Regions from separate parts of the Homo sapiens genome. Here region 2 is linked to region 1. Evidence: fine-mapped expression QTL. A gene starts in region 1. The other region holds a variant in brackets. All regions are shown on one strand. Distances are from middle to middle. Region 1 holds the start of PRXL2A (peroxiredoxin like 2A). Region 2 has its middle 26 kb from the start of MAT1A.

Region 1 (5,374 bases):
CATTCTAATCTCACTTGCACAGCCTCCTGTCTGGGCTCAGAACTCCGGCTTCATCAAGTTATATGGGTGTGGATAGGAAGGCAAGGCAATACCACAGAAGACACTGGGCTAAAAGCCAATAATCCTGGGTTTTCTCTCTTTGACTCTGAGAGTTATTTTATCCCTCTGAACCTCAGTGTCTTCTTAAAAACAAGGGCACTTTAAAGAGTTGTCATAAAGATTATATAAGAAGAGCAATTTTTAATGCGGTAACGCACTAGAAAACGGCAAAGCAGCATTATCTTTCTCTCTTTTGCAGGGCTCAGATTCACTCGTGCCCCTATAAAGACAGGATATCTGAAGCAGGACAGGCACAAAATAGTGAACTTCTGCAGCTGTGTCACTGCAGGCCTGCTTTCTGGTGAACGTTCTAGGTCTGGTGGGAACACTGGCTTGTCTCAGCCCCTCTGGCCTGCAGGCCCGCTCCATGCTATTCCTGTAGCAGCTAACACTGCCTCCTGCACTAGCAGTGCCAGAGAAGGCAAAGGACACTGCCCAGCTGTAATTTCCCTGTGCCAGAGGCCACTGAGCTCAAAGGTGAGGCTGGCTCTCTGCACAGAACCTCAGGATGGTTCTTGCCACACAAGCCACAGCAGAGAGACTTGGAGCTTCTGCTCAACATTTCACAAAGAAGCAAGAACCCAACTGGCAGGACAGCTGCCCTATTGCTTAGATAGGGACAGAGCCTGGGGCTTGAGCCCTAGAGTTCCAGTCCTATCCAAACTTTCTGAGCACCATTTAAATGACACGAGATGAGAAAATCATCAGAAATGTCTTTTGTACCCCTTCAGAAGTAATGCAGAAGGTCTCAACTAAATGACATGCTCTTATAAAAGACGGGGATATAGGAAAGGCCCACACCAAGAATAATATCTAACTTTAATTCTTGCAAGCTGTATAAACCTGGACAAGGAACTGTTTTGCATCAGTAAAATGGGAATGCTTCCTTAATTACCTTCTACAGAGTTGCAAGAATCAAAGGATTAAATGTATAGGAGGTGCCTTGTGAGGTACCTTACAAAAAGTGCAATAAATACGATGTATAATTCTTCATTTCTAGAGCAATGATTACCCTCAAAACGTTATTTGTACACAAAATGAAGAGTTTTCTGATGAATGAGTATGGTAACGAGTCGGGGTCTGCAGTGGAAATCCCAATCCTCATTCTCCAAAGCTGGGCCCGAGCAGGAGCATTCAAGACTATTCAAGCTGACTTTTTCACAATGCTTTTCAAAACAAATCTTGATTATTTTCTTTTTGAAAAACCACCTGCCAGGTTCAAAGGAAAATACATTAAAATAAAACAAACAAAAAAGCTGAGTTCTGGGTTGCTGGGCTGTGCAGACAGCATGATGTGGCAAGGAAAAGAGGCGCAGGAGCAGCTGGGAACCCCGGTCCGGCAGTGGACTCCCGGGTGTGCCTCCTTCCCACAGCCCTGGACCGGCTGGGCCTTGACTTCCCTTCCTTTGCCTCTAACCATCTCCACCTGCGCCTTCACCTCCCGCTCCAGCAACAACCCTGGGGGCAGATTGTTCATCTTTTCATTCCTAGACCTCAGCAGGGCTGTTAAGTTTACAACTGGGCTCTACCCAATTTAAAGTCAGGCGTTTGTGACTCTTGGGAAAGAGGGGGAACAGGTGCCTCCGAAACGCTGAACAACGCTAGAAACCGTGCCCTCTTAAAAGACACGACCCTAAGCGGGCACAGAGACGAGGACGAGGACTGCCAGGTCCGCACCTGGGGCTGGTCCAGCAGGGCGGCCCCCGGGCCCATGCTCCAGGGCAGGGCCCTCTCCTCTGTTCTTTGTCCCAACAATTCGCGAAGGTTGGCGCCACCGGCGTCACTCAAGGCTTGCGGGCGTGGACAGAGGGGGCCCTAGCCCGCCGCAGCAGCGCCGGGTCCCCGTCTCCGTTCTCCGACGTCTGGGCGCAGGGTTTTTCCATCGGCCGCCACGCAGGGTGGCGGAAGGGTCGTCGTCCTCGGAGGGAGCGCCAGCGCTGCGGCGGCTCCTAAGAAAGTTGGCGCGGGCCCGAGGGGCGCGCCTCACCAGCCCAGCACCCACCCTACCGGCCCTGCACTGCCTCAGTTTCCCCACCTACGCCGCGGCAGGCCCCGCCTACGGACATCACGTGCCTCGCGGAGCCCCGGCGCGCAGCACCTACCTCAAGTGCCTCCCTTCTGCCGGCCTTTTACCGCCCCGACGCCCGGGCGCTAAGGGGCCAAACCGCCCGGCCCGGAGGGTCCCAGGGGCGGGCCCCGCGCTTGCGCAGCCTCTAGCCTGTGCTGCATCGCGCGCTACCGCGCCACCGCCATGTGACCCGCCCCGCCCCCCGTGGGAGGAGCTCCGGGCCTGCCCCCGACTCGCCGACCTCCGGGCCGCGGTCTCCTAGCTCCGGTGGCGCTCGGGCGTGTGCCCCAGCGGTCCTTTTACGCACAGCGCTCGGTCGGTCCACTCCTCAAGTCCGCGAACCGAGGCCCCGACGCGTTCTTCAGGGCGCTGCCTAGGGCAAAAGAAGGCGCTGGACACCCCTAATGGAGCCTGGAAGCACCTGTCCTGCAGCCGAGGCTGGCCAACTTCCTTCCAATCTTCAGCCTGGTTTTGAATAGCTCTTTTGATAGGTTTTTTTTTTTTTTTTAACCTCCATGGGCAGGGGGAATCTAAAGGACCGACACATTCGATGAGCCCCTTCAAGCTGTATGTACAGATTCAGAATTTCCAACCTCAATCCTCCACCCACGTTCCCTTTCACTCCACAATGCCAGCTATGGGGCAGAGAACGGTGAGCCGCAGCCTTGCGGACTCCGGGCGACGCTGAGGCGGGTGTGTCACACACCGCTCATCCACTTACTCCTCCTGTTGGAAGTGCCCACTCTTTCATGAAAGTAGGAGGTTGTGTCCGGCGCGCTGGCTCACGCCTGTAATCTCAGGGCTTTGGGAGGATCGCTTGAGCCCAGGAGTTCAAGACCAGTCTGGGCACCATAGTAAGACTCCATCTCTACGTAAAAAACAAAAACTAGCCAGGCATAGTGGCGCGTGCCTGTATTTCCAGCTACTCTGGAGCTGAGGTGGGAGGATCGCTTGAACCCGGGAGGCGGAGGTTGCAGTGAGCCCAGATCGCGCCACTGCACTCCAGCCTGTCTTTAAAAAACAAAAAAAAGACCCTGTCTTAACAACAAAAAACAAAAAGTAGGAGGTTGGACTTTCAGAGACAGCAGAGCTGACTCACGATACATATTAGTGGTTGGCCGGGCTCGGTGTCTCATGCCTGTAATCCCAACACTTTGGGAAGCCAAGGCGGGCAGATCACTTGAGGGCAGGAGTTCGAGACCAGCCTGACCAACATGGCAAAACCTCGTCTCTACTAAAAATACAAAAATTAGCCGGGTGTGGTGGCGCGCACCCGTAGTCCCAGCTACTCAAGAGGCTGAGGCAGGAGAATAGCTTGAACCCCGGAGGTGGAGGTTGCAGTGAGCCGAGATGGTGCCACTACACTCCAGCCTGGGTGACAGAGTGAGATTCCGTCTCAAAAAAAAAAAAAAAAGACATATCGGTGACACAGTGCAAAGACCAGTCACAGGGCAGCATAAGGTGAAGTGGCAAAGCAGGCCGATGTCCGCCCGTCAAAGGTGGTCATTTGCCTGCAACACCTTCCCCCCTTCATCTGGGAGCTGCCCACAGGTGTACAAAGTCCAAAGGCTTCCGTGATTCACCTCCCTGACTTCCCACTCAGACTCCATGTTCCATGTAAACTTACAGCAACACTTGGGGAGCTTGATCTATTCAAGGGGGTCTCTCCTCAACCAAACTGTGAATTCCTCCACTTCACCTCTGGGACCCTAGAGCCTGGCCCAGGGACAGCGTGGAAATAAACTTAGAAAACGTGAGAGGTGGATCTAAGTTGTGGGGTAAGGGAGATCAGCCTGAGTGCCCATGCAGTTTTCCTGCAGGAGTTAGGCATATGATTTGAAGGCCAGAAAATATTTCGTATACTTTGGTGCAATGCGGGTGTAGTTTTATATATATATATATATATATATATATATATATGATATATAAGATATATATAAGATATATATGAGATATATAAGATATATATGATATATGTATAAGATATGTATGATACATATATCTCTCTCCAGAGGACCTTTCTTTCTTCTCCCTTGTTTCTCCTTACCTTGTGAAGAGGAGCGGGAGAAGGGTCAATCTTTCCATCCCAAAATAGGAAGTTCAAAGGTGAGGAGGGTTTGCAGGGAAGGCCACTTAGAACAAAACAGGAAGTCATTTCCTTGGGAAATGAGTTCTTGGAGACTGACCATTAATGACAGAGCCATTCAGGGGTTGAGGATAGCAGAATTCTGGGGTGGAAGGTCCCCTGAGGCTTTAACTGTGATGTAATTACTAATCACGTGCAAAAGTCATGCTTATATTTACACTTCGGTAACATCCTGAAGATCTGGACTTCAAAAACCAGGCTACATCTGATAGCTAATTAATATGCTCCTCACATGCCCACGTTTCTTTTTGTACAAGAAAGCACAGGCTGAACTCATTAAAAAACAGTCATTAGACCAGAAAAATAAGTTACAGGCAAGCAGGCGCAGGAAAACTTATTTACAAAGCTCAAGGACTAAAACCAAAAACCAAACCAAAACAAAAAACCTGAAGAATAAACCAAGAAAACCCACCAACCTGCCCAGCTTTTAAGAGAAAAATAATTTAAATTTTGTAAAGATTGTAAAATAGCCTTAGGTTCTGAATTTCAGGTGGTAGAAATTAAGGTTGACTAGAAGCTTTGTGATAACTTTAGATAATGTTACCATCTTGACAGGGGCTGGGAAACTTTTCTGTCCCTCACAAGTCCCATAGGGCAGGCAGAAAACACTGCTTGCAGGAGGCAGATCTGGGTAAAGACTCCTGACTTTTTCAGCGTCATAGCACTTCTAGATTCAGCTGGCTTCAGCTTCGTCTGCTACTCAGCAGTGACTGAAGTAACATGATCTTTTTAAGCTTATGGCCCTGTGGTGTCTGGGCTCGCTGGGAACAGTCAGGAAGCAGCTAGCATCAAGATGAAAATAGAGCAAAAACTGATACTTCACTTCAATATGTCAGGCCCAGGTTACCATTCTGTGGATGGGTAAAAGCGAAATCAAGAACAAGACTTGTATGTGAATCTCAAAAATAGATGTGCATAGATCAGCTTCAAATATTTTCTCTATATGCCAATATCCCTGAATTCAGCTCTTTCTTATTTGTTTTAAGCATAAAAAATCCTATACTTCCACAGTGTGTCTCAAAGCAAAGCAAAGTCAATAGGGACCTCTTTCTAAAACCTTC
Region 2 (5,374 bases), 140 kb after region 1:
GCCACCAAAGCAGGGCTTCTCTCCTGCCCCAGGGTTGAGGTGGCTGCCTCTGGGGTGTTTGCAGGAGTGCCCACAGAAAGGCCCTGGGACACAAGGCCTGGCTGGGAGGAGCCCCCTCCTTCACAGGCCAAGACTGCAACTGCGGAGCCAGTCACAACAGCCTAAGAGGACAGGAATTCCTTTCCTCGGAGGCTGTCAGAATCCCAAGTGACCAGGAGGAAACAGGCTCTGGCAGGGGAAGACACTTTGGAGGACCACCCACTCAGAGAGCAGATTGTGTCCGTGGGCAGGATGGGAGCTAAGAGTGGGAGCCGGCTGGATCTCCCTCCACTTCCTCGAGATCTGCCCAGGACACTGCCTGGTTCCCGCTGCTCTGGAGGGACTGTTCCCGGGCTGTGAAGTCCTGGGATCCCGCTGTTCCTTTAGTTCTGAACAGTGTATTCTCCAGCAGGAGGGGCAGCCCTGGACTCCCAGGCTCTGTGCAGGCTTCCCAGAAGCCTCTCTGGGAGGAGTGGGGGCCACTGCCTTCCACTTCCCGTGGCAGCCCCTGGCCCTGGCCTCCTCCAGGGCTCTGCAACCCTCTTCAGGCCCCCTGGCATGGTATCCATGCCCTCCTCGGGAGAGTAAGTGGGGTGGGATGAGGTGGAGGCCGCGACCTGTATAGACAACCCAGGGCTGTTCCATCTTCACCCTTGGGCGAAAAGTAGCCCAGCAGCAGCTTCAGGGCCCCACCTCCCAACCCCCACCAGGCCGACCCCACTCCCACTTCCTGGGCTGCCCCGCCCCTCCCAGCAGGCATGGCCAGCTCTCTCCACCTCTAGCACTGAGCTCTACAAAGCAGCTCTGAACTTAGTTCTCTTCTATGTCTTTGGTTTTCTGTTTGATCTCATCTTTAATTGTATATTTCTGCTCCTCTCTTAAAAGAAAGGAAAGAAGCCATTTTTTTTTGTTTTTGGATTTTTGCATCAAAGCCTTCACAGTTTCTAAGACATTTTAATTCGTTTTGATCTCATTTCTGTTTCTCTGCTTTCCTTGTGTTTCTTTTCCATTTTTAACTTTCTGAACTGAATGTTGGTTTTGGTGGCTTTTTGATCCAAAATGGCTTATGGGGGAGTCATAAAATTCCTATGTGGCTGTTTTTCCTCAATTTTTCACTCATTTCTAGTTTCATTGACACGTTATTAATAGAAAATAATCTCTATTATTTGTACTTTCCAAACACATTTTTGAGATTTTCATTGTAGTCCAAAATGATGAATTTTAGTGTTATATGATCACCTGATGTTATCAGTGTATAGATTTGCATTTATTTCAATTTGTTAAATATTTAAAATTATATAATATATACATGTATATTTTTAATTATATATTTCAGGTATTTTGTGGACAGGGATTTTAAGCTTTCCTTAGGGAAGCAACTGACAAGAGAGAACAAGAAAGTGTGAATTCTGAGGAAGGGCAAGGGATGGTTTTGGGCCTCATCACTCACTCACTCACTCACTCACCTGTTCCTTCCTTCCGCGGCATTCCTTCCCTCCTTCCACTGAGAACCAAGCCGCCCCAGGCCCGCCCCGGACCCCTGGGGCCTGCGGTAAGGAGTGCAGTTATTTTGTGTGGACATATGTGCTCCACGCCAGCAGCCGGAGGAAGCCTTCCAGGCAGAGAGAACAGGGAGCGCTCAGGATGGGGAGAGTGCTCTGGGGCCACAGGAGGGGGTTCAGCAGAGGGCAGGGTGGAGGGTGTGATTCTATTGTCGCTGTGCCCCCACGCCTCTCCAGTGATAGTCTGCCCTGTTGCCAGGCACGGGTGTGGTTCTGGGCAGACCGTGGTCAGTGGTCTCAGTGTTTCGGCCCAGCTGGCCATGGTGGCTGCAAGAAGCTCTGCAGCAGCCTGGGAAATGGGGGAGGACCTTCAGCCTCGCGTGAGCTGCTTTATTGGTGAACCCAGCAGACTCCATGGAGCTTGAGGCAGAAGCAGGTGAGCACAAGTTTTGCTCGGCCTGGATCACCCTGGGAGGTGGTGAGGGTGTCATGGTATGCGTGTGGTGAAAGTTCTCTTGTTTTTGACAGACTTGTTTAACCAGGGGATGAAAGACATTCTGTGCAGAGATCAGGGACGTGCCACTGCAGTCCAGCAGTAGTTCAGTGGAATGTAAAACCCTCACCGAGTTTCACCTCGAGACAGAGGAGGTCAAAGCCCAGGAGTGCCTGCTGCCCTGGATGGGTCCAGCTTGTGATCTGGAGTTACAGAAGGTGACTTGAGGCTCTTGAAGAAAAGCTGGAGGGAACTGTTTCTTATTCTCAAAGCCAGATTCTGTGTCTCGAATGGAAACTCATGATCATTGGTGGAGAGCATGGGAGGCTGAAAGAAACCTCATCATCTCCAGACAAGAGGCACAGTCCCGAGGCAAGGAAAACGGACACAGTGATTCCCCGAGTTTCTGGACATGGATCCTCAAGCAGCTGATAACCCAGATGGAGCGTGATTGGGGGCATTTGCCCTCTGACCTCCAGGCGTGGACGCAGCCTCCTCTGACACTCCCCTCCCTTTATACCCCACCTCAGCTGCCAGCCTTTCCTCTGCCCTCTTCCCCTCCATTCCCAGAGCCTATGTTTCCAGTGAACTCAAATGTGGAGTTCATGGGAAGGAGACATCCTCTTCTGTCCCCTTCTCCAGGAAGCCTGGGTGAACTCCTGAGCCAGCTTCCATGAAGGGCTGCTTTCCTCCTTATCCCCACTCAGGGGCTGGAGCCCCCACCCAGAAAATGGGAAAGAGTTGCTTTCTGGCTTCTCATTGAGCCACCACATGATCCTGCCAGTCCAAATGCCCAATTACCACCAGGCCCTACATAATTTCTCAAATTTTCCCAAATGTATTTTTGAATTATTTATGAGGGGGCTTCAAAAAGTTCATGGAAAATGTGTATTATGAAAAAACTGTGCATGGACTTCAAATTTTTTTTACACCAAAATAAACTCACACTAACTTGTTATAATATTTCTGAATAGGGTCTAGTTTGAGGCACTGAGAAGGATCAGAGATTGGCTTGATAAGAGCACCTACCAGAGCAACATGAATTCTGTGAAAATTGAAGTAAAAACAAACATTAAATTCATGGTGAAGCTTGGGTGGAAGAATGGTGAAGTCATGGATGCTTTACCAAAAGTTTATGGGGACAACATCCCCCCCCCCAAAAAAATCAGCAGTTCACAAATGGAAAACACATTTTAAGAAAGGAAGAGATTTGAGACCAGCCTGGCCAACATGGTGAAACCTCATCTCTTCTAAAAATA[C/T]AACAATTAGCTGGGTATGGTGGCATGCACCTGTAATCCCAGCAACTTGGGAGGCTGAGGTAGGAGAATCACTTGAACCCGTGAAGCAGAGGTTGCAGTGAGCTGAGATCATGTCACTGCACTCCAGTCTGGGTGACAGAGCAAGACTCCATCTCAAAAAAAAAACAACAACAAAAAAAAACCACAAGATTATGTGGAAGATGAAGTCCACAGCGGTAGACCATCCATATCAATTTGTAAGGAAAAATATTCATCTTCTTCATGCCATAATTGAAGAGGATCAATGATGAACAGCAGAAAAAGACCCAACACCATGGACAGATCAACTGCAGACAGGAGGGGAGATTTAGATGAAAATTTTAAACAAGTGGGATTAAGATCCTGAAGCATTTCTTCAAAGAATTGTAACAGGAGATGGAACTTGGCTTTCCCAGTACAATGCTGAAGACAAAGCACAATCAGAGCAATGGCTACCAAGAAGCAGAGGTGACCTAGTCACAGCAAAAGCAGACAGGTGAAGAGCAAAGGTCAGGGCAACAATTTTCAGTGATGCTCAAGGCATTTTGCTTGTTGACTTTCTGGAAGGCCAAAGAACAGTGACATATGCTTATTACGAGTGTTTTGAGAGAATCACAGCTTTAGGAGAAAAATGCCCAAGAAAGCTCCACCAGAGAGTTCTCTATCATGACAATGATCCTGCTCATTCCTCTCATCAAACAAGGTCAATTTTGCGAGTTTCAATGGGAAATCACTAGGTATCCACCTTACAGTCCTGATTTGGCTCCTTATGACTTCTTTTTGTTTCCTAATCTTAAGAAATTATTTAAAGGAGACCCGTTTTTCTCCATTTAATAATGTAAAAAAGACTGCCTTGACATGGTTAAATTCCCAGGATCCTCAGTTCTTTGGAGATGGACAAAATGGACGATATCATCACTTACAAAAGTGTCTTGACCTTGATAGAACTTGAGAGAAATAAAGTTTATATTTTTTATTCTTGTCTTTTAATTTCATTTTCCCACAAACTTTTAAAAGTCCCTTATATTTGTTTTTAATTTAAAAGCCTCTTTTATATGTGCTTTACTTTTCCTCAAATGATACATCAATAGTATTATACATATATGAATAAAATTTGGTAAATAATGGTTATTTAAATTATTCTCATTATAAGTTCTAGAAAACAGAAGGAGTTAATTTTAATTTTATGATGTAGTCCATTATTTCCAAAACTATGCTATTATCTGGGAGCATTTCGACCACCAGAAACATTTGAAATATCAGAACACTTCCTCTCTGCCAATGCTTCTGTGTTGCTCAGTGATAAGACAACAGTGGAGGCTAGTTGTCAGTCTCCATAAATGTAAAAGAATGGTTTGACTGTGCTGACATTCTAAAGGGTAGGTGGCTCCTGGTCTGGGCCCAGCAGGGCTGCTGCCCCCTGGCTGTAAGGGTCCTGGCCAGAGCTGGACTGAGCTTAGCTGTTCAAGGCAATGAGAGGTTGGTACAGGCTGGGATTCCTCTTCACCAGCGCATCTGGCTTACTGGGCCCTCAGATTCTTCATTTGGGGTAAAAAGCCTGCCCCAGTGTCATCACCATCTGTACAATGCGTGTGCTAAAGGCCTCAGGGCAGCCTGGGCGAAGCGCTGGGGTGTCTGCAGCTTGAGGACTAGGGGTTGGGATGCCATGCTGAGCCAGGATCAAGCCTGCCCAGGGATAGATATGCACACCTTATAGGTAAAAAGCAAGGCTGGATCCTCAGGGTGATATAGTGAGCAGTCCTAGGACCTGAGGTTCAGACCAGGTCCACCTTGCAGTGTGAAAGGCCAGGTGAGCCTGACCAGGCTGGGCCTGGTCCGTAACTGTGGTCATTGTGGACCGAACACACTCTGGCATCTTCAGGGAAACCTGAACAGAGATTCTGGGGTCAGGGGGAACAAGGTTTGAAGCAGGCTCTAGAATCTTCAGGCCATGCGACTTCTGAAAAGCTGTGGAACCTCACTGAGCCCCAGTTTCCCTAGCTGTTACAAGGGAATGAAGATGGACCGTGCCTTGCAGTGAGCTTGGGAGGGATATGGTAGAC

Evidence for each region. PIP is the estimated chance that this variant, and not a neighbour inherited with it, causes the effect.
Region 2: its variant is the best candidate, but not a certain one, in a credible set for the expression of PRXL2A in whole blood (INTERVAL, PIP 0.71).

Annotation. Positions count from the first base shown.
Region 1 is chr10:80,405,471-80,410,844 of GRCh38, reverse strand. It overlaps PRXL2A (peroxiredoxin like 2A), which reads right to left and starts at 2,294. Exons shown (of 6, transcript NM_032333.5): 1 at 2,202-2,294. RefSeq lists enhancers at 1-500, 1,347-1,940 and a silencer at 2,226-2,515.
Region 2 is chr10:80,261,204-80,266,577 of GRCh38, reverse strand. No RefSeq gene overlaps it. Among named protein-coding and RNA genes, the nearest start is that of MAT1A, 26 kb to the left of the region's middle. RefSeq lists enhancers at 1,222-1,752, 1,753-2,284. The variant C/T (reference allele first, on the strand shown) is at 3,294.